7 linked regions of the Homo sapiens genome follow. The protein of the gene in region 2 purifies or fractionates together with the protein of the main gene of each other region. This does not show direct contact. Each region holds a gene or a part of one and is shown on either strand. Other genes may lie near its edges. The genes, in order: RTN2, FAM241A, ARL6IP5, MACO1, ASPH, REEP5 and TMEM245.

Evidence for each region.
Region 1: the proteins of FAM241A (region 2) and RTN2 purify together in Homo sapiens (affinity purification with mass spectrometry; one large-scale study listed by BioGRID and IntAct). This does not show direct contact.
Region 3: the proteins of FAM241A (region 2) and ARL6IP5 purify together in Homo sapiens (co-immunoprecipitation; 2 studies listed by BioGRID and IntAct, with this or other methods). This does not show direct contact.
Region 4: the proteins of FAM241A (region 2) and MACO1 purify together in Homo sapiens (affinity purification with mass spectrometry; one large-scale study listed by BioGRID and IntAct). This does not show direct contact.
Region 5: the proteins of FAM241A (region 2) and ASPH purify together in Homo sapiens (affinity purification with mass spectrometry; one large-scale study listed by BioGRID and IntAct). This does not show direct contact.
Region 6: the proteins of FAM241A (region 2) and REEP5 purify together in Homo sapiens (co-immunoprecipitation; 3 studies listed by BioGRID and IntAct, with this or other methods). This does not show direct contact.
Region 7: the proteins of FAM241A (region 2) and TMEM245 purify together in Homo sapiens (co-immunoprecipitation; 2 studies listed by BioGRID and IntAct, with this or other methods). This does not show direct contact.

Annotation. Positions count from the first base shown.
Region 1 is NC_000019.10:45,490,548-45,494,047, forward strand, and holds part of RTN2 (reticulon-2), read right to left. Parts: intron 2,832-3,500; coding exon 2,613-2,831; intron 1-2,612. UniProt on the Homo sapiens protein: Inhibits amyloid precursor protein processing, probably by blocking BACE1 activity. Enhances trafficking of the glutamate transporter SLC1A1/EAAC1 from the endoplasmic reticulum to the cell surface.
Region 2 is NC_000004.12:112,148,454-112,151,953, reverse strand, and holds part of FAM241A (uncharacterized protein FAM241A), read right to left. Parts: intron 1-3,500.
Region 3 is NC_000003.12:69,094,937-69,098,436, reverse strand, and holds part of ARL6IP5 (PRA1 family protein 3), read right to left. Parts: intron 1-3,500. UniProt on the Homo sapiens protein: Regulates intracellular concentrations of taurine and glutamate. Negatively modulates SLC1A1/EAAC1 glutamate transport activity by decreasing its affinity for glutamate in a PKC activity-dependent manner.
Region 4 is NC_000001.11:25,437,397-25,440,896, reverse strand, and holds part of MACO1 (macoilin), read right to left. Parts: intron 1-3,500. UniProt on the Homo sapiens protein: Plays a role in the regulation of neuronal activity.
Region 5 is NC_000008.11:61,641,593-61,645,092, forward strand, and holds part of ASPH (aspartyl/asparaginyl beta-hydroxylase), read right to left. Parts: intron 3,041-3,500; coding exon 3,008-3,040; intron 2,410-3,007; coding exon 2,353-2,409; intron 1,842-2,352; coding exon 1,794-1,841; intron 1,329-1,793; coding exon 1,296-1,328; intron 1-1,295.
Region 6 is NC_000005.10:112,912,228-112,915,727, forward strand, and holds part of REEP5 (receptor expression-enhancing protein 5), read right to left. Parts: intron 1-3,500. UniProt on the Homo sapiens protein: Plays an essential role in heart function and development by regulating the organization and function of the sarcoplasmic reticulum in cardiomyocytes.
Region 7 is NC_000009.12:109,109,948-109,113,447, forward strand, and holds part of TMEM245 (transmembrane protein 245), read right to left. Parts: intron 1-3,500.

The sequences.
Region 1 (3,500 bases), on a different chromosome or scaffold from region 2:
TGTGTGTGTGTGTGTGTGTGTGTTTTGTTTTTGTTTTTATTTTTTTTGAGACGGATTCTCGCTCTATTGCCTAGGCTGGAGTGCAATGGCACAATCTTGGCTCACTGCAACCTCCGCTTCCTGGGTTCAAGCAATTCTCCTGCCTCAGCCTCCTGAGTAGCTGAGATTACAGGAGGGCTCCACCACACCCGGCTAATTTTTTATATTTTGGTAGAGATGGGGTTTCACCATGTTGGCCAGGCTGGTCTCGAACTCCTGACCTCAAGTAATCCTCCCACCTCGGCCTCCCAAAGTGTTGGGATTACAAGCGTGAGACACCACGCCTGACCTTGGTTTGTTTGTTTGTTTTTTTTTTTGAGACAGAGTTTCGCTCTTGTTGCCCAGGCTGGAGTGCAATTGTGCAATCTCGGCTCACTGCAACCTCCACCTCCCGGGTTCAAGCGATTCTCCTGCCTCAGCCTCCCGAGTAGCTGGGATTACAGGCATGTGCCATCATGCCTGGCTAATTTTTTGTTATTTTTAGTTAGAGATGGGGTTTCACCGTGTTAGCCAGGATGGTCTTGATCTCCTGACCTCAGGTGATCCACCCACCTTGGCCTCCAAAAGTGCTGGGATTACAGGCGTGAGCCACCACGCCCGGCCACATTTTTTTTTTTTTTATTTTTAGAGGCAGAGTCTCACTCTGTCACCCTGGCTGGAGTGCAGTGGCGTGATCATGGCTCACTACAGCCTCTACCTCCCAGAGTCAAGCAAACCTCCTACCTCGGCCTCCTAGCAGCTGGGACTACAGGTGGCACCACGATATCGTGCTAATTTTTTTTTTTTTTTTTTTGGACAAAGTCTTCCTCTGTCACCCAGGCTGGAGTACAGTGGCATGATCTCAGCTCACTGCAGCCTCTGCCTCCCGAGTTCAAGAGATTCTTGTGCCTCAGCCTCCCAACTAGCTGGGATCACAGGCATGAGCTGCCATGCCTGGCCTGGCTAATTTTTTTTTTTTTTTTTGAGGCAGAATCTCGCTCTGTTGCCCAAGCTGGAGTGCAGTGGCGCGATCTCAGCTCACTGCAAGCTCTGCCTCCCGGGTTCACGCCATTCTCCTGCCTCAGCCTCCCGAGTAGCTGGGACTACAGGCGCCCGTCACCATGCCCGGCTAATTTTTTGTATTTTAGTAGAGACGGGGTTTCACCATGTTAGCCAGGATGGTCTCGATCTCCTGACCTTGTGATCTGCCCACCTCGACCTCCTAAACCTGGCTAATTTTTAAATGTTTTGTAGAGATAGGGTCTCGCTATGTTGCCCAGGTTGAATTCCTGGCTTCAAGTGATCCTCCCACCTCGGCCTCCCAAAGTGTTGGGATTACAGGCATGAGCCACCGCGCTCGGTCATATATATTTTTTTAATGTCATAAATTTTGAAACACTGCTTACTAGTAAGACCATAACAGTTCTTATTTCCACAAGAAGCAAGAGAAAGATCTTTTCCCAGCATCCTGCCCTGCAGTGGGTTGCAGTTCTTTTTAACTTTTGCCAATCTGTCAGGTGTAAAGTGATATCCCCTTGATACCCTTAGCAACACATGTTTCTAAGTCCTAAATGTATTAATCACGCCATACTCCTTTCCAGGGCCTAACTCAAATTTCTGACCCCTTTCTGAGACCCTAAAACACACCTCCTAAACCCAACCTCAGCCCTGACCAGTGACCTTTGTACCCCAACCTTCATCTCATCTGTCTAAACTTTAGGCTCACTCCTGTAATCACAACACTTTGGGAGGCCGAGGCGGGAGGATCACCTGAGGCCTGGACAACATAGTGAGACCCTGTCTCTACAAACAAAATAAGAAAATTAGCAGGGCGTGGTGGCCTGTGGCTCTAGTCCCAACTACTTGGGAGGCTGAGGTGGGAGGATCACTTGTGCCCAGGTGTTGGAGGCTGCAGTGAGCTATGATCCCACCACTGCACTCCAGAAAGGGCGACAGAGGGAGACTCTGTGGCTTAAAAAGAAAAAGAAACTTTAGTAATCTGCTTTCCTTTGAGTCCTGAAAACCAGGAACTCAGTACCTTTCTATTTCTTTCCAGATCCTCTCTATCCTCCCACACTCCCTCCAACTGACCCCTCCGACCGGTCCCTCTTAGAGGCTCACCCCTCACTTCCGTCTCCTTCCAATGCATCTCCTCTCATTTACCTCCAAATAGGGCAGCCCCTCCCTCCCCATAGCAGGGCCCTCCCAGGCAGGCTCCTAGTGGCCGGCGCCGGTGGATGGGGGAGGGGCCAGGTCGCCTGAGGCGGGGGCTAAGTTTAGGCACGCTGGGGGGAGGGGGCCTCCCCGCAGCTGTTCTGGCCCGTCTGGCCCCTGAGTGACAGCGCTGCCTGGGGCCGAGGCTGGGGGAGGGGGTCCTCCCTGCTCCTGGGCCCCAAAGTGCTGGCTCGAAGGAGAAGGGACCCCATGCTCCCTCTGGGTCCTCCCTATACTGCCCCTCGGCCCCCTAGCCCCAGCCTGCAGCGCTGCGGAAGCAGATCAGTAATAAAAATGCTCCGGATGTGCAGGAGATAAGGGCGAGTTTGGACCCCGTTCCGCCGACCTCAGCCCCCGTCCAGCCCGTTCCGCAAGCCCACCTTTACTCCCCATATCGGCTCCGAGTGAGAGGCTGGGGACACCGCTGCTTCTCGGGGATTTTGCCCACTTCAGTAGAACCCGGAGGACAGGAGTAGGGGGGGTGGGGCCCCTTTGGACCCAGCCAATGGCTGTCCACAGAGGTGGGGACAATTCCAAAATTGGAACCGTCTTGTAAACAGCCAAAAGCAATGATGTCTTTAACCATTCCATAGCTGTTCCTGGAGGCGGAGCATATTTTAAAGTAAGGCTGGGTCATTTTACAACTGGCCAATAGATGTGGTCAGGAAAAAGAGGGTTTTTGTTTGTTTTTTCAAATAGAGATCGAGTCTCCCTATGTTGCCCAGGCTGGTCTTGCACTCTTGGCTTCAAAGGATCCTCCCGCCTCGGCCTCCCAAAGTGTTTAGGATTACAGGCATGAGCCACTGCGCCCGGCCAAAAAGAAGAGTTTTTAAAAGGCACAGAGTTTACTTATAAATATTCTACGGCCACATCTAAATAAGGAGAGAACTGTATTTTTTCAGGGATTTGGCCTGTCCAAAATCAGCCACTAGGAGGAGCACTCCAGAAGAGGGAGGATTATTTTATTTTATTTTTATTTTTTGAGACGGAGTCTCGCTCTGTCGCCCAGGCTGGAGTGCAGTGGCGCGATCTTGGCTCACTGCAACCTCTGCCTTCCAGGTTCAAGCGATTCTCCTGCCTCAGCCTCCCGAGTACAGACGGGGTTTCACCATGTTGGCCAGGCTGATCTCGAACTCCTCACCTCAAGTGATCCGCCCGCCTCGGCCTCCCAAAGGGCTGGGATTACAGGCATGAGCCACCGCGCCCGGCCGGGGAAATTTTTTTAAAAAGCGGAGTTTATCACGTCTAGCCAGATGTGATATCACGTC
Region 2 (3,500 bases):
ACTACACCATCTAAAGTAGGGCAGAAAATTTGTCAGACTGTTTTTCCATCATGTAATGTGCTTTTTGTATTTGTGAAACAAACAAACAAACAAAAAACACTAGCTTTGGTGTTCGGAAACCTGGGTTCTAGTCTGCTCTAGCATGAGTTAGCTGTAGGACCTACAGCAAATAACGTGGCCTAGGGAACAACTATTGGCTTCTCATATTTTACCAAGAGTTTAAATATACACTTCTAAGAAAATAGTTAAACAACTTCATATGTATATATTACTGATACTATGTTGAAGGGCAAGTGTGGTGAATACAGTATATTGACTTGCTTATTCTCCATTCCCTTGCCAAAATGTGGTCCATGGGCACAGCATCAGCATCACTTAGGAGTTTGTAGAGATGCAAAATCTCAGACCTCACTCCAAACCAACTGAATCAAAATCTGCATTTAATAAGAGATGATTCCTATGCACACTGAAGTTGAGGAATACTTGTGTCAGTTTCCATTGCTATAAAAAAATCAGACACAGACAATATAGCACTGGATAATTTATAAAGAAGAGAGGTTTATTTGGCTCATGGTTCTGCAGGCTGTACACGAAACATAGTGCTGGCATCTCCTTCTGGTAAGGGCCTTAGGAAGCTTACAATCATGGCAGAAGGTGAAGGGAGAGCAGGCAGTGTCACATGGCAAGAGGGAGGGAGGGAAGGAGAGAGAGGGAGAGAGGTCCCAGATTCTTTTAAACAACCAGATCTTGTGTGAACTAAGTGGGCGACAATTTACTTGTCACCAAAGGCATAGCACTAAGCCGTTTATGAGGGATCTACCCCCATGATCAAAACACCTCCCACCAGATCCCACCTCCAACACTGTAGATCACATTTCAGTATGAGATTTGGAGGCAACAAACGCCCAAACTATATTAATGCTGTTCTGCTTTTCGCCTCAGGTGGTTTTCTAATTGCAGAGGCTGGAAAACTTAAAATTGCCTTTCTCAGATTTCGTTTCAGTTAGGACTTTGGTCCAAAATTAGGCCTAACAGCTAACACTCACATGCTAGATAGCTATGTGCCAGAGACTGCTCTAAGTACATCTCATATATTATTAATTCATATAATCCTTCCAATAATCCTATGAAGTTGTTACAATTATTCCCATTATGCAGATGCAGAAACTGCAGCCCAGAGAGGTTAGTTACTTGCCTAAAGTTACAGTCAATAAAAGGCAAACCCAGGTAACCCTGATCTAGAATCTGTACTGTTAATCATATTTCTACTGATAGATCAAAAGGCATGGACCCCCCTCACTGAACCCCCCATTTTGTTTTCTTTTTTACAGATCATCTCATGGAACACACTTTGGCAAATGCTGTTACAGAAGTTCCTTCATTTATTTACTTACATTTATCTATGAGCCAGCATTGTTCTGAAAGTTCTAGGCATTGCCAAAGGCAAGAAATAGAAATGAGACATTATCATTTGAAAGGAAGCAAAATTATTTTTATCTATAAACTGGATAATTATATACCTAGAAGATGCAAATGAATCAAGTCTAAGAGCTACTAGTATTTATTAGTACCAGTATAAAAATTTAGAAAGATGGCCAGTTAAAAATGAAATACATAAAAGCCAATAGCTAGAAACCACCAACAAAATATGATATGGAAAAAATCCTTTTCATAATACCAACAAAAATATAAAAACTTAATACAGACTTTAATATAATCCTTAATACTATAAAAGATTATAAAGCAAGGCAGAAAGTACATTATTCAATGATTAGGACAAAAAAAGATCAGCTCCATACTTCATACAATATAGAAAATCATTCTAAAGAGATTAAATATATAGAGTAAAAAATTAAACCATAAATGCACACATACAAAAGAAAACATAGGCAAATATTTAACTGATTGTAAGATTAGAAAAAATTTCTTAATATGTATAGAAAGAGATACGTGTATACATGTGAGTGGTGTGTGTATATACGAAATTACCAAAAAAATTCCTTTAATAAAAATTCAAAGCATTATCAAATTTTAAAAAACATAAATAAAATTATAAAGTAAATAGCAAGCAGAGAAAATATTTACAGCCAATGTGAAAATAAGGGATTAATATCCTTATAATGCCAAAAGAAAAAAAATGACTAAAAAGAAATACAAATGCCTAATAAATATATGAATGGTTTAGTAAACCTCTCCAGCAACAGCTTACAATATGATAGAAGTTTCACCTATGAAATTGGCAATGATTATAAACTATATTGTTCATTGCTGGCATGGATGGTTTCCAACTGGCCTTTTTACACACCAGTGCTGCAAGTGTAAATGAGTACAACCTTTCTTGAATTAAATTCTTTAGGATGTTTCAAGAGGCTTCAAAGAGTTTGACTCATTGACCTAGTTCTTCTACTTCTAGGAATCTATACCAGGGTAGAAGTTTAAGGATTTACAAGCAAATATTTTCAGACAGCACGATTTATAAAAGAAAGCTTGAAGCAACTTCAATGTGCGGTGTTAGGGGAATGAATTATTTGGCAGCCCTAAAGAGAGTTTTCACATAGAATTTCCATAACATGGGAAAATGACACAACCTTTTGTAAAAGAAGACACAAAATTATATTTATATTAAAACATATTAAAAATACATGTGTGGCTGGGCACAGAGGCTCAGACCTGTAATCCCAGTACTTCGGGAGGCTGAGACGGGAGGATTGCTTGAGGCTAGTAGTTTGAGATTAGCCTGGGCAACATAGCAAAACCCTATCTCAAAAAAAAAGTGTGTATATATGCATATACACATAGACAAATGAATATACTGTAGTAATACCAAGTTTCATATTTGATATCAAAATATTTGATATCAAAATCCCAAAATAGAGTGGGATTTCAAAGGCTTTTTTCTTCTTTAGATCTTTCTATAGTTCTAATTTTCCAAAGCACACATTACTTTTATAATCATAAAGACGTTAAAGCTAGAGTTAATAATTCGAAAGTCAATCTAAGGATAATGGGACTTCCCTATTCTCTAGGTAAGAGGGTCATGTTAGGTTATTTCAGATTGTGAGTGACCTGTACATTGTGCCACATCTAAGCAGATGCTATTGACATTTAAGGCATATAATAATGGACTAGAGATGTTTAGCCTTTCAGCTATGCATCAGGGCACAGAAACTCTTACATAAAGCCACCTGGCATTCACCCTCATGAACATACTTGGATCATCTCTCATACACACAATTACCAACACATATATGGAATAGCTGTGTCCTGTCCCTTCAGTTTCTTGGACATTCCCTGAAATTGCTTCTTTCCCTTGCTTATCTCTCTTTAGACACCTGATCCTATTTCAAACCTGGCACAGTTTCTTCATCTACAGGACTTGATTCATTCTCCCAAGGCCTCCTTTCTTAAGTGACTTGATTTTAACCAGGCATCCTTTGTCAATCGCCCTACCTGGAAAGACTCAGGCCAGAATGACAGAAGAACCTTCATTTTTTGCTCAA
Region 3 (3,500 bases), on a different chromosome or scaffold from region 2:
CCTGTCTCTACTAAAAATACAAAAAATTAGTTGGGCTCGGTGGCGGGAGCCTGTAATCTCAGCTACTCGGAGGCTGAGGCAGGAGAATTGCTTGAACCTGGGAGGCGGAGGTTGTAGTGAGCCGAGATGGTGCCATTGCACTCCAGCCTGGGCAACAAGAGCAAAACTATGTCTCAAAAAAAAAAAAAAAAAAAAAGCCAGGTATGGTGGCAGGCACCTGTAGTCCCAGTTACTTGGTAGGCTGAGGCAGGAGAATCACTTGAACCCGGGAGGCAGAGGGTGCAGTGAGCCGAGATTGCGCCACTGCACTCCAGCCTGGGTGACAGAGTGAGACTCTGTTTCCAAAAAAAAAAGAAATAGAAATTTCTATAATTAGTATATTATTTCATAATCAGAAATAAAATGAATATATAAAAAAGGAAATACAAAAACATAAAAGCAGCTGCTCTCCAACCCACAACCGCCGCTTGGCACAGACCAACCACAAAAGTCCATCTCTACTTGTCCCATCTCGCCAACAACATTAATGGAATTTCAGTTCATGAACCACAGCGAAGCTGTTCCTTCTCCAATCCAAATCCTGGTTTTCTGCTCATCCTCCAGATCCTCTTGTGCCAGTCTATAGCACCCCAGTGCCCCAACCTTCCCCAATACCCAGCACATGTGCTATTCTCTCTGCCCTCTTCCCCTCCCTCTTGGTTCTGTGTTACCTGGGTCTACTTGGCCTCTCTGCACTTTCTTTCTGTTTTATTTTATCTGGATTATGCCCTGTCTTCTGAGACAACCCCGGAATTGGTCTGGGAAAGAAAAAATTCCCTTATACGCCTGAGGAAGGAAAGAATCTGATGAATCAAAACCACAATCCCCTTCAGCAGGTTGTAGAGAGTGGAGAGTGAATGAAGAGGCCTTGAAACTCTTATAGATTAATATTATCTAATTCCCAGCATCACAAAAGATTCTAAGCCAGTGTGGTAGCTCATGTCTGTAATCCCAGCACTCTGGGAAGCCGAGGTGGCGGATGCATCGCTTGAGCCCAGGAGTTTGAGGCCATCCTAGGCAACATGGCGAAACCCCATCTCTCCAAAAAAAAAAAAAAACACCCCACAAAAATTAGCCAGGTGTGGCAGCACACACCTATAGTCCCCACTACTTGGAAAGCTGAGGTAGGAGGATCATCTGAGCTCAGAGGTCAAGGCTGCAGGGAGCTGTGATGGTGCCACTATACTCTAGCCTGGGTAACAGAGTGAGATCCTGTCTCAATTAAAAAATAAAAAGATACTTAGAGAAACTGAAAAATTATACCAAAGACTACAGTATAGTAGGATAAGGGGAGTTTATTTCCATTTGCTTATTTTTATTTTCATATTTTTTTCAATGGCCATGTATTCCTTGATGAATAAAAAAAATTGGTATTTAAAAATGAACAAATGAAATTGGGGAAAGGCTCCTGAATGTAAAAAACCCTTTACAAAGCCTTGACTTTGACCTATAACCTACCCAAATGTTTCTTCTGAGCCGTAAAGAAAAACAAAGATCGCCAGGTACAGTGGCTCACACCTGTAATCCCAGCACTTTGGGAGGCTGAGGCAGGTGGATCACAAGGTCAGGAGATCAAGACCATCCTGGTCAACATGGTGAAACCCCGTCTCTACTAAAAGTACAAAACTAAGCCTGGCTTGGTGGCATGTGCCTGTAATCCCAACTACTTGGGAGGCTGAGGCAGGAGAATTGCTTGAACCCGGGAGGCGGAGGCTGCAGTGAGCCGAGATTGTGCCACTGCACTCCAGCCTGGGTGACAGAGCGAGATTCCGTCTCAAAAAAAAAAAAAAAAAAAAAAAAGCAAAGCAAAACAAAGATCAAATCAACACAAAGAACTCAAATGGAGGATTGAAATTCAAGGAAATTCCTTTGCATACCCTGCAAGTAGGAGTGGGTTGGCTGGCAGCAAAGCATCAAAGGGCTCCTACTCAGTTCATTCTGGAATACTTATTAAAATAATAATTCATGAAGTGAAGCATATAACAAAATTCATGTCAAGCTGTTTTTATTTTCCTCTAGACAAGTAAAATACATATTTAGGTTGAGTGCCTAAAGTCCAGGACAAGGAACAATGAAAAATCCAGGCCTAACTCAAGCAATTCCAAATTTGTTTCACCTGTTCTGGTTGCTCATGTCCAAGAGAAAAGAACAGAGCCTGAAGTTCTATAGAACTGGTTTTAGTTCATAACCTGCCCAACAACAGTCTATAATTAGAAAGCAAGCAAGTTTCCAAGCTGGAAAAAAACTAACGAAGTTACTCTGAGCAGAAATTATTTTCTTCTGTATCTGATAAAATGTATACCACTCCAATGCCCTGGCACTTACCTGTATTTGGAACAAAAGACAGACAGACAGACAGACAGACACACACACACACACCCTCTACAGATTAACAGAAATTCTCAGAAATCTGGGAACCAGTTCTTGCCTGAGATGCTTTTTAGTCAACAGTTGGGCTGTTTATCACAGCAATCACGACAAACCCCAAAGACTTTTAGGACAAAACTTTCCATAAACATGCCACCCATCTTTCATGTAGACAGCTGCCTCTGTGGTCTGCTGGGTGGAGTTTCACTTACTGATAGTCCTAGAGTAAGAAAGAGGGCTGGGTGCGGTGGATCATAACTGTAATCCCAGAACTTTGGGAGGCTGAGGTGGGTGGATCAGCTGAAGCTAGGAGTTTGAGACCAGCCTGGCCAACATGGCGAAACCCCATCTCTACTAAAAACATAAAAATTAGCTGGGCGTGGTGGCGCATGCCTGTAATCCCAGCTGTTCAGGAGGCTGAGACACGAGAATCACTTGAACCTGGGAGGTGGAGGTTGAAGTGAGCTGAGATTGTGCCACTCCAGCGTGGGTGACAGAGCCAGACTCCGTCTCAAAAAAAAAAAAAAGAACGAGGGATGGTGAGAAAGAAGGGAGAAACAGCAGGACCTAGTTTTGCAACTCAAAAACCGTTATGTTTTTCTATTGTGAAATTAAAAATATATTAATACATATGTTTGTATATATTTTAATTATATATATTTAAAATATGAACATGTATTACCCAATTCCAATAAATAATTAATAAATCTTTCCCTATAATAGTTACACATTCTAGAGCAGTCATTTATGGTTATAAAAAGGTTTAGAATCCCATCACAGAAATTTTGTAGCAGTCTTCAAAGATGAATCAGTCTAGTCCAATTATACAGATAACTAAACTGAGGCCCAGAGAAGAAACATATCCAAAGGGATCCAGGAGAGAAACAAGAAAACAAGGGTGCCAGTTGTGGCAGCAACTCACAGTAGAACCCATTCTGTCATGTTAACCGGCTTTAAGGATTTCCCCCACACTCTAAGTAACCTACTATAACCAAGGATCATCCTGGAAAATCCCTCTGCACTCTCATTTCTCTCTGAAACAAGGTGGCTATTAGTGGGTGTGGATACAGGTCCTAAACTTCCCAACGTGATTC
Region 4 (3,500 bases), on a different chromosome or scaffold from region 2:
ACAGCGGTGGTTCTCAAAGTATCTTCTAGTAAGCCAGACACTAAAGAGCTATGCAAAAATGTAAAACCACACCAGTCTTCTCATGAATTTATTAATTTATTGTTACTTTTCTTTTTTTTTTTTTTTTTTGAGATGGAGTCTCACTCTGTCGCCCAGGCTGGAGTGCAATGGCGCAATCTTGGCTCACTGCAACCTCTACCTCCCAGTTCAAGTGATTCTCCCACCTCAGCCTCTCAAGTAGCTGGGATTACAGGTGCCTACCACCATGCCTGGCTAATTTTTGTATTTTTAGTAGAGATGGGGTTTCACCATGTTGACCAGGCTGGTCTCGAACTCCTGACCTCAGGTGATCCGCCTGCCTTGGCCTCACAAAGTGCTGGGATTACAGGCGTGAGCCACTGTGCTCAGCAATTTATTGGTACTTTTAAGTGAACTAATGTTTTAAATTTTTCTATTTTAACTTTTTTCTTTCTTCTTTTTTTTTTTTTTTTCCCAGAACTGGGGTCTTCCTTTGTTGCCCAGGCTGAAGTGCAGTGGTACAATCATAGTTCACTGCAGCCTCAACCTCAACCTGGGCTCAAGTGATCCTCCTATCTCAGCCTCCAGAGTAATTAGGACTACGGGCACATACCACCATGCTTGGCTAATTTTTTTTTTTTTTTTTTTGTAGAGATGGGATGTTGCTATGTTGCCCAGATTGGTCAACATAGCAAGATCCTGGGCTCAAGTGATCCTCCTACCTTGACCTCCCAAAGTGTTGGGACTACAGGCATGAGCCACCACATCCAGCCAGTTTTAATTTCTAATACAGTAAATATTGATAGATATAATCCATATAAACCAAATCTCTGTGATATTCTCAATCTTTTTTTTTTTTTTTGAGACAGAGTTTCGCTTGTTGCCCAGGCTAGAATGCAATGGTACGATCTCGGCTCACCGCAATCTCTGCCTCCTGGGTTCAAGTGATTCTCCTGCCTCAGCCTCCCAAGTAGCTGGGATTACAGGCATGCGCCACCATGCCCAGCTAATTTTTCATTTTTAGTAGAGACGGGGTTTCTCCAAGTTGGTCAGGCTGGTCTCAAACTCCTGACCTCAAGTGATCCACCTGTCTCAGCCTCCCAAAGTGCTGGGATTACAGGTGTGAGCCACAGTGTCCAGCCTCAATCATTTTTAAGAGTGTAAAGAGATCCAGAGACAAAAAAATTTTTTGACAAAAAAAAAAAAAACAGAAATTTGTGTGTGAGCCTTAACATAAAATAAACTGGAACCACTGCTGCATTCTGCAGGCACCTCCTTGTATAAAATCCAAAAAAGGGGAGCAGGCTGAGAAGACCAAGCTGTTCTATATTTCTTTTTTCTATTCTAGGCCTCCTGCATACTGCAAAGGGAACCTTTCTAGTGTCAATTACACACACACACACGCGCGCGTACATGTGCAGCCACTGCAATGACAAATCTAACAGTGTGAAATATGCCCTTTTTTGTTTGTTTATTTTTTTCAGAGACAGAGTCTTACTCTGTCTCCTAGGCTGTAGCGCAGTGGTGTGATCATAACTCACTGCAACCTCCAACTCCTGAGCTCAAGCGATCCTCCCACCTCAGCCTCCCAAGTAGCAAGGGTGACAGGCAAGAGCCACCATGCCTGGCTATTTTTTTTCTTTAAAAATAAATAAATAAATAAATAGGGTATCTTATGCCTTTCACTAAGGTGTAAGTACTTTGTACTATTTTTGTGACTTTTCTGTTTAATTAAATCTAAAATTATTTCAAAATGAGAAGTTAAAAAGAAGCAACACATACTTGTTATTAAAAAGGTAATATAATGTATAATATAAAAGCCCTTAGTAGTCCTGCCCCAAGATGATTGCTGTTATATAATTCATAAATATAATTTGCTTTTTCTATATAAACAAATGTGTTTCTTTCTTAACAAAAACAGGTTTCTGTTTGACATGTCCACTTCTTTTTTTTTTAGTTTTTTATTTTATTTTATTTTTCTTGAGACAGTCTCACTCTGTTGCCTAGGCTGGAGTGCAGTGGCACAATCTCGACTCACTGCAACCTCTGCCTCCTGGGTTCAAGCAGTTCTCCCAAGTCTCCCAAGTAGCTGGGATTACAGGCGCATGCTACCACGCCCAGCTAATTTTTATATTTTTAGTAGAGACGGGGTTTCGCCACGTTGGCCAGGCTGGTCTTGAACTCCTGACCTCAGGTGATCCACCCGCCTCGACCTCCCAAAGTGCTGGGATTACAGGCGTGAGCCACGGGGCCCAGTCATGTCCACTTCTTTATATAGAATTTCCCTTATCCATTTTAGCAGCAACATAGAGTTCCACATAGAATTTACACTGTTCTCTGCAGTCTCCTAACTTCTGTTTCTGTACTCTTTCAATAGTGCCTTGCAGCTTTTTAGTTCTCTATTCCTCAGGTTTGTTTCCTATAAAATGGCAATACCTACTCTGCCTATTTCACACTTGTGAGGATAAAATGAGATAATATGAAAACATTTGGAAAAGTTACAAGTAAGACAGAAATGTAAGGTGTGATTAAGCAGATTATTACTATCAATTATATGAAGCATAATTTTGATTCCCTTATGAAATGAATTTCTAATGTTTATATAATGTTAACAGGTTTTTTTAGAGCCTGTGAGTTGTTTTCTCTCTCCGCCTATGCTTCTTCACCCCTCCCCTTCCTCAACCCCATAGACTCCACACTGTTAAAAGTATTCTTGAAACAGAAATTCTAAAACTCACCACCTGCATTAGGTTACAATACCTGTCCTTGATATCTCTGTGGTCTATACAGACCTTTATAAAAATGTTATACTACAAAACCGTGAAAACCTTTTTTAGCGATTTCCATTCTAGATTTTTTTTTTCCTTTAAATTGGGGGCTGATTATGGTGGCTCACGCCTATAATATCAGCACTTTGGGATTATATTAACCACCACGCCCAGCCAATTCTCTTTTTTTGACACAGGGTCTTGCTCTATTGCCCAGGCTGGAGTGTAGTGACACGATCATGGCACACTGCAGCCTCAAACTCCTGGGCTCACGTGATCCTCCCGCCTCAGCCTCCCAAGTAGCTGGGACTACAGGAATGTGACACCACACCCAGCTAATTTTTTTGAATTTTAGTAGAGATGAGGTCTCGCTATGTTACCTAGGCTAGTCTTGAACTCCTGGACTCAAGCAATCCTCTTGCCTTAGCCTCCCAAAGTGCTGGGGTTACAGCCATCACACCCGGCCAAAAATTCTTATTACATCTGAGCAAGACGACTCAAGCCTCAGACAGTATCTCTCTTTTCTGAGACAGGAATCCTTACTTTGGACATGAACATAGTATTCATTCTCTTTAATGTTCAACTATTCTTGCTACAAGATAGGCAAAGTACTGATTTTAGTACTCAGCTATTTATTTGGTTTTTAAAAGTGTTGGGTGGGTGCGGTGGCTCATGCCTATAATCCCAGTACTTTGAGAGGTCAAGGTGAGTGGC
Region 5 (3,500 bases), on a different chromosome or scaffold from region 2:
CATTCATATCCCATTAGAAATAGCCACTATAGATGATGAACTTGGTAGGGTCTCAAATCTTAAATCATCATATAAATATGATTCATATTTATAAACACTCCTAATTTTCTTCAATTGTGATTCACTATCTATCATGACACTGTAAACTCCTTGAAAGGAGGGACCCTATGTTACTCATAATTGAATTCCAGGCCCTAAAACCATCTAGAACATAGAAAGTCCTCCATATCCACCAACTCAATTACGATGTATTTCTTCATCGTTCTTGCTTTACACATAAAGTTATACCCAACTGACTTCTCTCTTTCTACATAATCATCTTTGAGGATAATGGAATAAAAAGGATATATTATTGGTTCTATTACTTCTTAGCCATACATTCTTGGGCAGCTTATTTATAATGTCAGAACCTTATTTCTGTCCTCTGGGAAGCAGGGAAAATAAAATCTACTTCATGGAGTTCAACACAATAGTCTATGCAATGCTTGGACACAAGAGGAGGGAGGTACAGGCCTAAACTGAATCAGATGCTGCTGATGCCACAAATTTGCCAGAACTGTTTTCTCCATACTGCCTTTAAGCCTGGAACACAGTGCTTCTTAACCTTCCCCAAGGTGACAAATCAGTCATCTTTGAGAGTGGGATTAACCTGTAGAAGCAGCTAGAGCAATTTAACTCCGGCTAAAGTAGTTGTTCATGCATATTTTAGTCAAAAGAGACACAACTATAAAGTACTGAGATTGGTTTTCTTGAATGACTGTAACTGCCTCCTAAGGCAACTTGTAAAGAGTTTAAGAAATTATTTAGGCAATGGCAGAAGCCGTGGAATGGGTAAACAGTCTCCCCAAGTGAATTCTTTGAACGCTACCGTTCATCTGGATGTTTTAAGTTGCAAAGTTTATAGTTTAAAGCATAATGTTCCACATCTTGTAGTCAAACTATAGGTATATTTTAAAACAAGAAGGTGGCTTAAGGTTAGAAAGCATTTGCAGGCCGGGCGCAGTGGCTCATGCCTGTAGTCCTAGCACTTTGGGAGGCCAAGGCGGGAGGATCACCTGAGATCGGGAGTTTGAGATAAACCCTAAAATACTAAAAATACAAAATTAGCTAAGCGTGGTGGCACATGCCTGTAATCCCAGCTACTCAGGAGGCTGAGGCAAGAGAATCGCTTGTACCCAGGAGGCGGAGGTTGTAGTGGGCCAAGATTGTGCCACTGCACTGCAGCCTGGGCAACAAGAGCGAAACTCCATCTCAAAAAAAAAAAGAAAAAAAAAAAAAAGAAAGCATTTGCAAACCTTGTTCCTCATAGACTTGGTATGTTACATCATCTGAAAAAAAAAAGAGAATAAAAGCAAAATAAGTATTAACTGAGTCATTCTATACAATTGTTCAGTTAAAACAAAATACTACTTAATCGTAAACACAGAACTCTACTCCTTCAAATATTAATGTCTGCTCAGTCAATAATAAATGCCTCTGCCCAAAAGCAATTAAAAGGCAGGTAAATTATTTTCATTAAAATTTCTCAAATTGGCACAGAGGAATTTGATACACAAAAACAGCATTAAAATTTGACATCCTGTTTTGTTATGGAATGGTTAGTTGATGAGGTGAAATATGAAAGCCTGATATTCTTATAACAGTCTAACTTTGTTATAAAACAAAATCTCATGCATTAGATGTCGAAATTACTTCTTTGATGCCTTTAAAAGAAAAATCACCATGTAAACACAGCATGTGATTGAAAAATCTAAGGTAATATTTTAAATCTAATGAAAATGCTCATCTAATACCTGTATCATGGTGCAATCTTTCATCTTCTACTACTGGTTCACTGGAATCTAAAAAACAAAAACACACCTTTGCCAAACAGGAAAAAACCAAACACATTGCCAGACAGCATTCTAGGAGATTCATAAATTAATTATCTTCACAACTTTGCCAGATAGATGTTTTCATTATCATTTAATAAAATTTAAGCTGAATAACGTTCCACAATTTGATGCCTAAGTCAAAAAGATAGGAAAGAGTAGAAATGGGATTTGTACCCAGAATGACTTTATAGTACATCATACTGCCCCTTCAATTTTCAAATATTCTTTCCAGCACCTTACCTACAAAGACCAAAGTCTCAACAGTGGTTTGAAAAATACGTCTCCTTTTTCTCTCATCCCTCTATGTAGTATTAAACTATATTCAGACATTTCTATAAACATCTGACCAATCAAAAGTGATTATAAATACCATACAGGGATCTCTGTGTTGAATCACAATTGTTAACCCTGGAATAAAACGGCCTTGGCCACTGCCTCAATCAGAAAACACATATCAATAATTTTAACATTTACAAACCTGGATTTTCCTGCTCAGACATCATCTCTTCCATATCCTGATTACAGTCTTGTGAAACTATAAATTATGGAATAATTAGGAAATTACGTCTCAAATAAGGAATACATGTAATATTCGAAACCAGAAAGACACAATTTCTAGTTATGATTGAAATGCAAAATCAAGTCATAATGATATTCAAACATGTTCACTCCTGAAACAAATAGGTATTAAGTGTGTTAAATGCCAAATGCAAAGATGAGTAAGGGGGGCCTGTCATCAACTGGTTTACACTCAAACCGCAAAACAGTAAAGTGCTGACAGATGATGCGCCCACCTCCTGTGGCCATGCCCTTTAAGGGCGCTGGCATGTGACAAAACATGATTTAGACCTTTCGTTGACTCTGTAATTGAAAGGTACAAAACATGCAATTCAATTGTATCTTTTGAACTAGTAATCCTACTGAAAATTTATCCTCAGGAACTAGGCATCAAAACACAAAAAAGTATATTCACAAAGAAATACCATAAATATAAGACGTAATAAAATTATTAATTGCATATCTTGCATATATTAATTTAAATATATCATTAATAATAGATATTATGTATTTTATGATGCCCTTTTAAAGGAAGACTCACTCTAATTAAGAACAGAATTAAATTAAAATCTCACCTGTCTCTTCCACGTGGTAACTATGCTCGGTTTCTGGAAAAAAAAAAATTAGATTGATATTTACTGCTTTTACAAAATGGTATGTATATATCCCGTATATGTACTCTGAATCTATGCTTATCATTAATTTTATTTAAAAAATTAAAAAATGGGACTATCAATTAAAAGTCTGCTTAACACTTTTATATTTCACTAGAAGTACACTGTGGGATGTCTCACACATTCTCCTTCTCAGTCCACTCATCCCCACAAGGCTGACAACCACCACCCCCTGGACTAAAGAGAGAGGACAACTTAGAGTGACACAGGCCAGACCAGGAAAGCCGTTCATTTCTAATCCACTTCACAACCCACTAGAATGTGCTATCTCCTCGACCTGTCCTACCATTTTCTAGAGCGAAAGTACAGCAACTATGGATGGGAACAGAGAAAAACAGCTGAAGAGGCTTTATACCCTTAGGGAGCTGAAGGGTAAATGTGTTGAACACTTAAC
Region 6 (3,500 bases), on a different chromosome or scaffold from region 2:
ACTCACACCTAAGACACATAGGTACATACTATGTGTTCTGTGCATGGTTCATAAGTAACTCAGTTGCTACAATTCAAACTAGCCAAATGACATAAAATTAAGTAATAGTATGTCTTCACAGCATTGGCTTTATTATTCAAACCAGTTGTACCAATATCAACTATTTACCAGAGACTGACAGTGTGGAAAAAAAAGCAGTTCATTAAAATATATCTATATATCCATTTATACCCATATATATTTTAATTTTATCCATATATATGGATAAAAAGCTTTAAGATGTCCTATTGGTAAAGAACAGAAAGGAATCATCTTCTGGTCCATCTGCTTTATATTTTATTTCTAATGTGGTAACTTATGTTTAATAGCAAATATTCCAGAGGTTAAGATAGGTTCTTTGGAAATTGAATATGAAGAACATGGACCATAATGTTTATAATCCTTTTTGTTATGGCAGACACATAACTTGACCATCCTCCATGCCCACCATGCATGGGATTGCTTTTGGCTGTATTTATCAGAGAGTATGATGTAGGAATTCTTAGTAATTCAAAATGGTTTTCCTATTATCAGTACCTCAAATAAGAAGGAAAAAAGAATCAGACATTTTAAGACATAAACACTAGTTCGTTTCCATGCCAATAAGGAAAATATTTTTCTCCTTCATAGAAAAAAAGAAGGCAGGAAACTATGCGTGATCAGAAAGTTACATATCTTTTTCACTGCAGAGTATATGTGCTTTTAAAGCAAGAGAGAAAACCAACAAACAGTACGAGAAAGACTAATGAAAGACTGACCGGGCACAGTGGCTCATGTCTGTAATCCCAACACTTTGGGAGGCCAAGGCAGATGGATCACCTAAGGTCATGAGTTCAAGACCAGCCTGGCCAACATGGTGAAACCCCATCTCTATTAAAAACACAAAAAATTGGTGGCAGATGCCTGTAATCCCAGCTACTTGGGAGGCTGAGGCAGGAGAATCGCTTGAACCCGGGAGGTGGAGGCTGCAGTGAGCTGATTGCGCCACTGCACTCCAGCCTGGGCAACAAGAGGGAAACTCCATCAAGAAAGAAAGACAGAAAGAAAGAAAGACAGACAGACAGAAAGGAAAAGAAAGAAAAGAAAGAAAGAAAGGAAAGAAAGAAGAAAGAAAGAGAAAGAAAGAGAAAGAAAGAAAAAAAGAAAAGAAAAGAAAAAAGATTACAGAGGCAGTGGAGTGAGAATAGCTAGAGCCTGGGAGGTCAAGGCTGCAGTGAGTCATGATTGCACCACTGCACTGCAGCCTGGGTGACAGAGTATGACCCTGGCTAAAAAAAAAAAAAAAAAAAAAAAAAAATTAAGATGAGTCTATAGAATACCTATAATGAAGTATAAAGAAAAAAATGCAGTCATTCAGTGGTCAAATCTTTTGGTGTTTAATTACAGTGATCTCATTTACCACTATCCACCATTTTGTTTTTAAATGCAAAATGGAAGAGTCAGTCACAGTCAAATATAACAATGCGGAATGTGGACAGACATCCCTACACTTAAGACTGAATTGGTCCCAACACACCTGTGACCTATGTCAATTAACTTCAGTTTGTGGCCTTGATTTCCACATCTGTTACAGGTGGCTATCACCCTAGCAGCTTAGTCTCTAAGACCCCTTTTAGCTAACATTTTATAACTCAAAACTGAATGTGTGTGTGTTTGTGTGTGTGTGTGTGTGCACCCAGGAGTTTGAGACCAGCCTGGGCAACATGGCAAAACCCCATCTCTACAAAAAATACAAAAAATTAGTACACACCTGTAGTCCCAGCTACTCCAGAAGCTGAAGTGGGAGAATCACCTGAGCTTGAGAAAGTCAAGGCTGCAGTGAGCTGTGTTCATGCCATTGCACTCAGCCTGGGTGACAGAGTGAGACCCTGTCTCAAAAAAAACACACTCAAAAAAACCAGGCTGGAGTGCAGTGGCGCAATCTCGGCTCATTGCAACCTGTGCCTCCTGGGTTCAAGCAATTCTCCTTCCTCAGCCTCCCAAGTGTGTGTGTGTTTTTTTGAGACAGGGTCTCACTCTGTCACTCAGGCTGAGTGCAGTGGCATCAACACAGCTCACCACAGCCTTGACTTTCTCAAGCTCAGGTGATTCTCCCACTTCAGCTTCTGGAGTAGCTGGGACTACAGGCGTGTACTAATTTTTTGTATTTTTTGTAGAGATGGGGTTTTGCCATGTTGTCCAGGCTGGTCTCAAACTCAAGCAATCCACCCATCTCAGCCTCCCTGCCTGTCCCCCCAAAAAAACTGTTTGAATGATTGATGGTAAAAAAGATTAATGCCAGGAGCAATAAAAGAGCAGATGCAAATCCCACTGGGACAACCCTTTGTCAATAAAACCAGTGGTTCTATAAGTATCTGTGTCAGATTGGTATCATAAAGTTTAACTTAATCTCAAGTAACCTCACAACTTAGAAGGGGAACAACCTAAGCTGCCTTTTCCTAGGTAAAGGAGGGCCACCTTAGATGCGGACCGCAGTCTAGACAAGTGAGCGATCCCTTAACTAGATCACTTGGTCTATCAGAGGCTGCAGGATATATATAGTAGACACATGACTCAGAGTGACTGATAAGCTCCACTCCCTGGAATCAGGAAAGTGTGCAAGTGACAGAATGAAGTCAGGGTACGTTTCTACAGCCCCCACTTATATTTCAGCTGCTACAAAAAGTAATTTCATTCACAATTTTGAAATTGTTTTAAAACTTCTGCCATATTAATTCATACTTCCCCAAAATTAATTGTTAATGTTATGAATCACCACTAAATACCTTAACATGTTATATTTGTATTTATACTTGTTTTAAATGCCATGTGAAAAAATTAAGTTGAAAACTGAGTCCTCATTCAAAGTCAGTCCTGAAAAAGAGAAGTCCAGGTCAGAAGGAGATGAGGGAGGCTACGACAGAAAGAAGGACAAATAGACTAAATCTCCAGGGCCTTCATAAAGAGAAAAAAAAAAGCTCATAAGGAACATTCCAGAATAGAGTATTAGAAATGAGATCCTCCTCCACAACTGCTTTAGAGCCCAGAAACTCTGATCATGAATAAATAATTTAAATCATTCATCTTATTTGCTTTTTAAAACTTTATTTTCTTTATGACACAGGCAAGCGGGCGAACCTTAACTGAAACGCTGGCTGTCATTATTTTACAAAATAGTCACAAGTTGTTATAAGGATATTTTTATTACTTTTTCATTTCTCCACAACACTTTCATCTTAAAAGAGTCCAGCACTCTTAGCAGTAATGTTAAGTGAAACAAGGACAGTAAAAAAGTTGAGGAAGGTTAAATGTTTAAATGCTTAAGATTTCAGATTTAAATTAAGTAAATTAAAGATTTAAATGTTTAAGTAAATTGCTTAAGTCACAGTTTGCAGAATGCCTGTTATATTTTTTATCCAAGTGCACATCGGCCAGAAGGCCACATTGGCTTGTGCTTCATACTACCCCAGAAGGCAAAGCGC
Region 7 (3,500 bases), on a different chromosome or scaffold from region 2:
TGGTAAAATTTTGTTTTTCCTTTCACTTTTTTCTGTATTTTCCAGACTGCCTTTAATAAGCACTAATTCTTTTATAATAAAAAGGACATTAAAATATTTCTTCAAGTAACTCTATCAGATGAAATATTAAAGAGCTTTGAAGCTCAAAAATATGAGGACATGGGAAGTGAGACTACAGCTGCTTCAAAAAGTCCAGTCTTGCTGGACCAGACCAATTAACCCTGGGAATTCAAAGAATTTGAGATCTGATTGCAGAGCATAGAAAAAAATCTGAGTACAATAATAGTACACTTATATAACACTCCTATGTGCCAGGCCCTATTCTAATGCTTTATGTATACTAACTCATTTGATCCTCATAACCCCACAAAATAATATTATTATGATCCTCATTTTACACATGAAAGAAACCCAGATTTCAGAGAAGTGACTTGCCCAAGGCCACAGCCAATAAATGACAGAGGCAGGATTAGAACCCAGGAATCTGGCTCCAGAGTGCACTTTTCTAATCTTAAGGAGAAAGAAGCATGGTGCTAGAATACTAAAGATAAGCAAAAGCTGCTCAGATTTTCACAAGGGAAAATAAAAACAGTCAATTTAGACAACTACAACTTGTTGAAATTAAAAAAAAATCCACAGTAAATGGATAGTCTTCAGAGGTACGTCAGTTAGCCCCACCCTATTAAACATTACGTCAGTCACTTAGATGAAAGACTAGAGGCACAATAACAGAAAAAACTGATTTTACACAAATCAGTTATACAAAACTGAGTTGTCAATAAATATTGAGATAATCTATCATGATTCAAAAAGATATCCTGAAGCCAGAACAATGGGCTAATCCAAACAAGATTAAACTATATGAAAAGAAATGCAAAGTTCTGCTTCGAGATTCAAAACTCAACTGTACAAGTATGGAATGGAAAGAGAACATCTGAACCACTTTTCAGTTCAGTATGAGTCAGCCTATGACTAGTAGAAGCACTTATTTCTAAAAGTACAATACTCGTATCAGGGAAAGTGATTGTTTCAATTAATTTTGCGCTACCAAACCACACAACAAAATTCAGCCTGGGAAAGGAAATAGAAATCACAACATGATAATATAAATGTAGCTAGGGGAAAAAGAAAAAAAAAGTTTTGCTCAGAAAAGAGAAGGAAATATCAAGATTTTGTAGCTATCTTCAAATAATTTTTAAAATGTCATCTGGGAGAGGCATAAGACTTGATTTTCTGTGGTTCTGAGAGCAGAAATACGTGGGAATTAGGAAATAACACAGCTCAGTAAAAGGACAGGTTTTTCCAATAAACTATAGCTATCTACAAATGGAATAATCATTACTAAAAGTGTTTGAGCAAACGTTGAACAGAGATGACAAAGTAAGTACTACCCTTAGTAAGAAGCTGAACTGGAGGTCACAATTTATACAGTACCTCCAAGAAGTTTTTGTTTCTTATCTGTATGCATAAGGAATTAGTATCATTTGCAAGGAGAGAAAAAATAAGAGACTGCATACTTCAGATTTTTTAAGAGAAATTTATTGTCTAACAAGAAGCATGTATTTTCATCTATCAACCTGAAACTCACAGATTACCTCATTCCAGTTTAAAATAACCATTTTAAAATATACTCCCCAATTCTACTTTTAGGAGTGTTTTACAGAAGCACACTGTGCAGACACATATAAAAATATTCACTTGCCATTTACAATATAAAAAATTGAGAACTTAAATATCATTTTATAGTGAACTGTTTAAATAATGCTATCTCCAAAAATTGAGTAATTAGTCAGACTTTCAACAGTATGATGAACATCAATATACAGTGCTACAGTGTCAATTTATTCGTGTGTAAATTTATAATGGTGAAAATATACTCAACAAAAAATGTTTTAAAATATTATCTCTAGATGGCAGATTTCAAGGAGTAATCTGCTTCTTTATGTTTTATTACAGGTGCTCAATTTTCTACTAAGGTTATGTAGTATCTTTATAAACAGAAAAAGAAGTATTTTTAACCTTTAGGAAATTCTTTTGGCTTCTGGATTTTTTCCAGTATTTTGAAGTGTTTCCTCAGAAAAGATTCGCAGAAGTAATATTAGTTCAAGAGGTAAGGCCATTTATAAAAACACTTTAGAGTTTATATTAAGCCCATTATGATTATACAATTACCAATGGTTAAAAATGTTTATCAAAGTATTCTAATACAAATTCAGAGCTAAGAAAATCTGTTGAAAACATTTTCTAAAAGGCATGGTGGGGGAGGGGGAGAAAAAAGATTTATACTGTAGCAGTATTAAAAAGAAAAAAGTGGCCAGGGCAGTGGCTCACACCTGTAATCCTTGCACTTTGGGAGGCTGAGGCGGGCAGATCACATGAAGTCAGGAGTTCGAGACCAGCCTGGCCAATGTGGTGAAACCCCTTCTCTACTAAAAATACAAAAATTAACCAGGTATGGTAGCATGTGCCTGTAATCCCAGCTACTTGGGAGGCTGAGGCAGGAGAATCGCTTGAACCCAGGAGGTGGAGGTTACAGTGAGCCGAGATTGCACCATTGCACTCCAGCCTGGGCAGCAAGAGCAAAACTCCATCTCAAAAAAAAAAAAAAGAAAGACGTATATCTCTAAGTGCTAATAAGGAAAGATGGCCACAGTACAATGATAAATGAAAAGAGCAAGGTACAGAGCTATATGTATGTTATCTCATCTTTGTTTTAAAAAACAAAAAACAAAAACCTTCTACTTTATATGTTCACATGGACAAAGAAATGAATTTAGGAGCCTTTACATCAAGCAGTTAATAGTAACATCTGAATAGTGGGAATAGTGGTAGAGAAAAGGGATAATTCGGCCGGGCGCGGTGGCTCATGCCTGTAATCCCAGCACTTTGGGAGACCAAGATGGGCAGATCATGAGGTCAGGAGTTCAAGACTAGCCTAGCCAACATGGTGAAACCCCGTCTCTACTAAAAATACAAAAATTAGCTGGGCATGGTGGCAGATGCCTGTAGTCCCAGCCACTCGGGAGGCTGAGGCAGGAGAATTGCTTGAACCCGGGAGGCAGAGGTTGCAGTGAGCCAAGATCGAGCCACTGCACTCCAGCCTGAGTGACAGAGCAAGGCTCCATCTCAGCGGGGCCAGGGGCAGGGCGGGGGAAGGAAAGGGATAATTCACTTTTACCATACAAACTTCTGTTCTGCTTATGTTTTTTCAAATGTAACAAGCATATTTTACTTGGGTCAACATTTTGAATCACTAAATATCCTTTAAAATAACAAAAATAAGGATTTGTACATGCATGTTTCACACACAATTTCTAGTCTAGGACCTCTTAGGAGTTTTTTAATTCTTAAATCTTCACTAACACGGAAACATGAGGTTAACAAGTCAACTTTATATATGTTTAGCCTCTGAGCAAACCTATTCAAGTGTGAATTTTATTCCAGGCATTAAATCAATGAGCCACAGTTACAGATAAGAGGGCATATTTTTCCAAACTTAT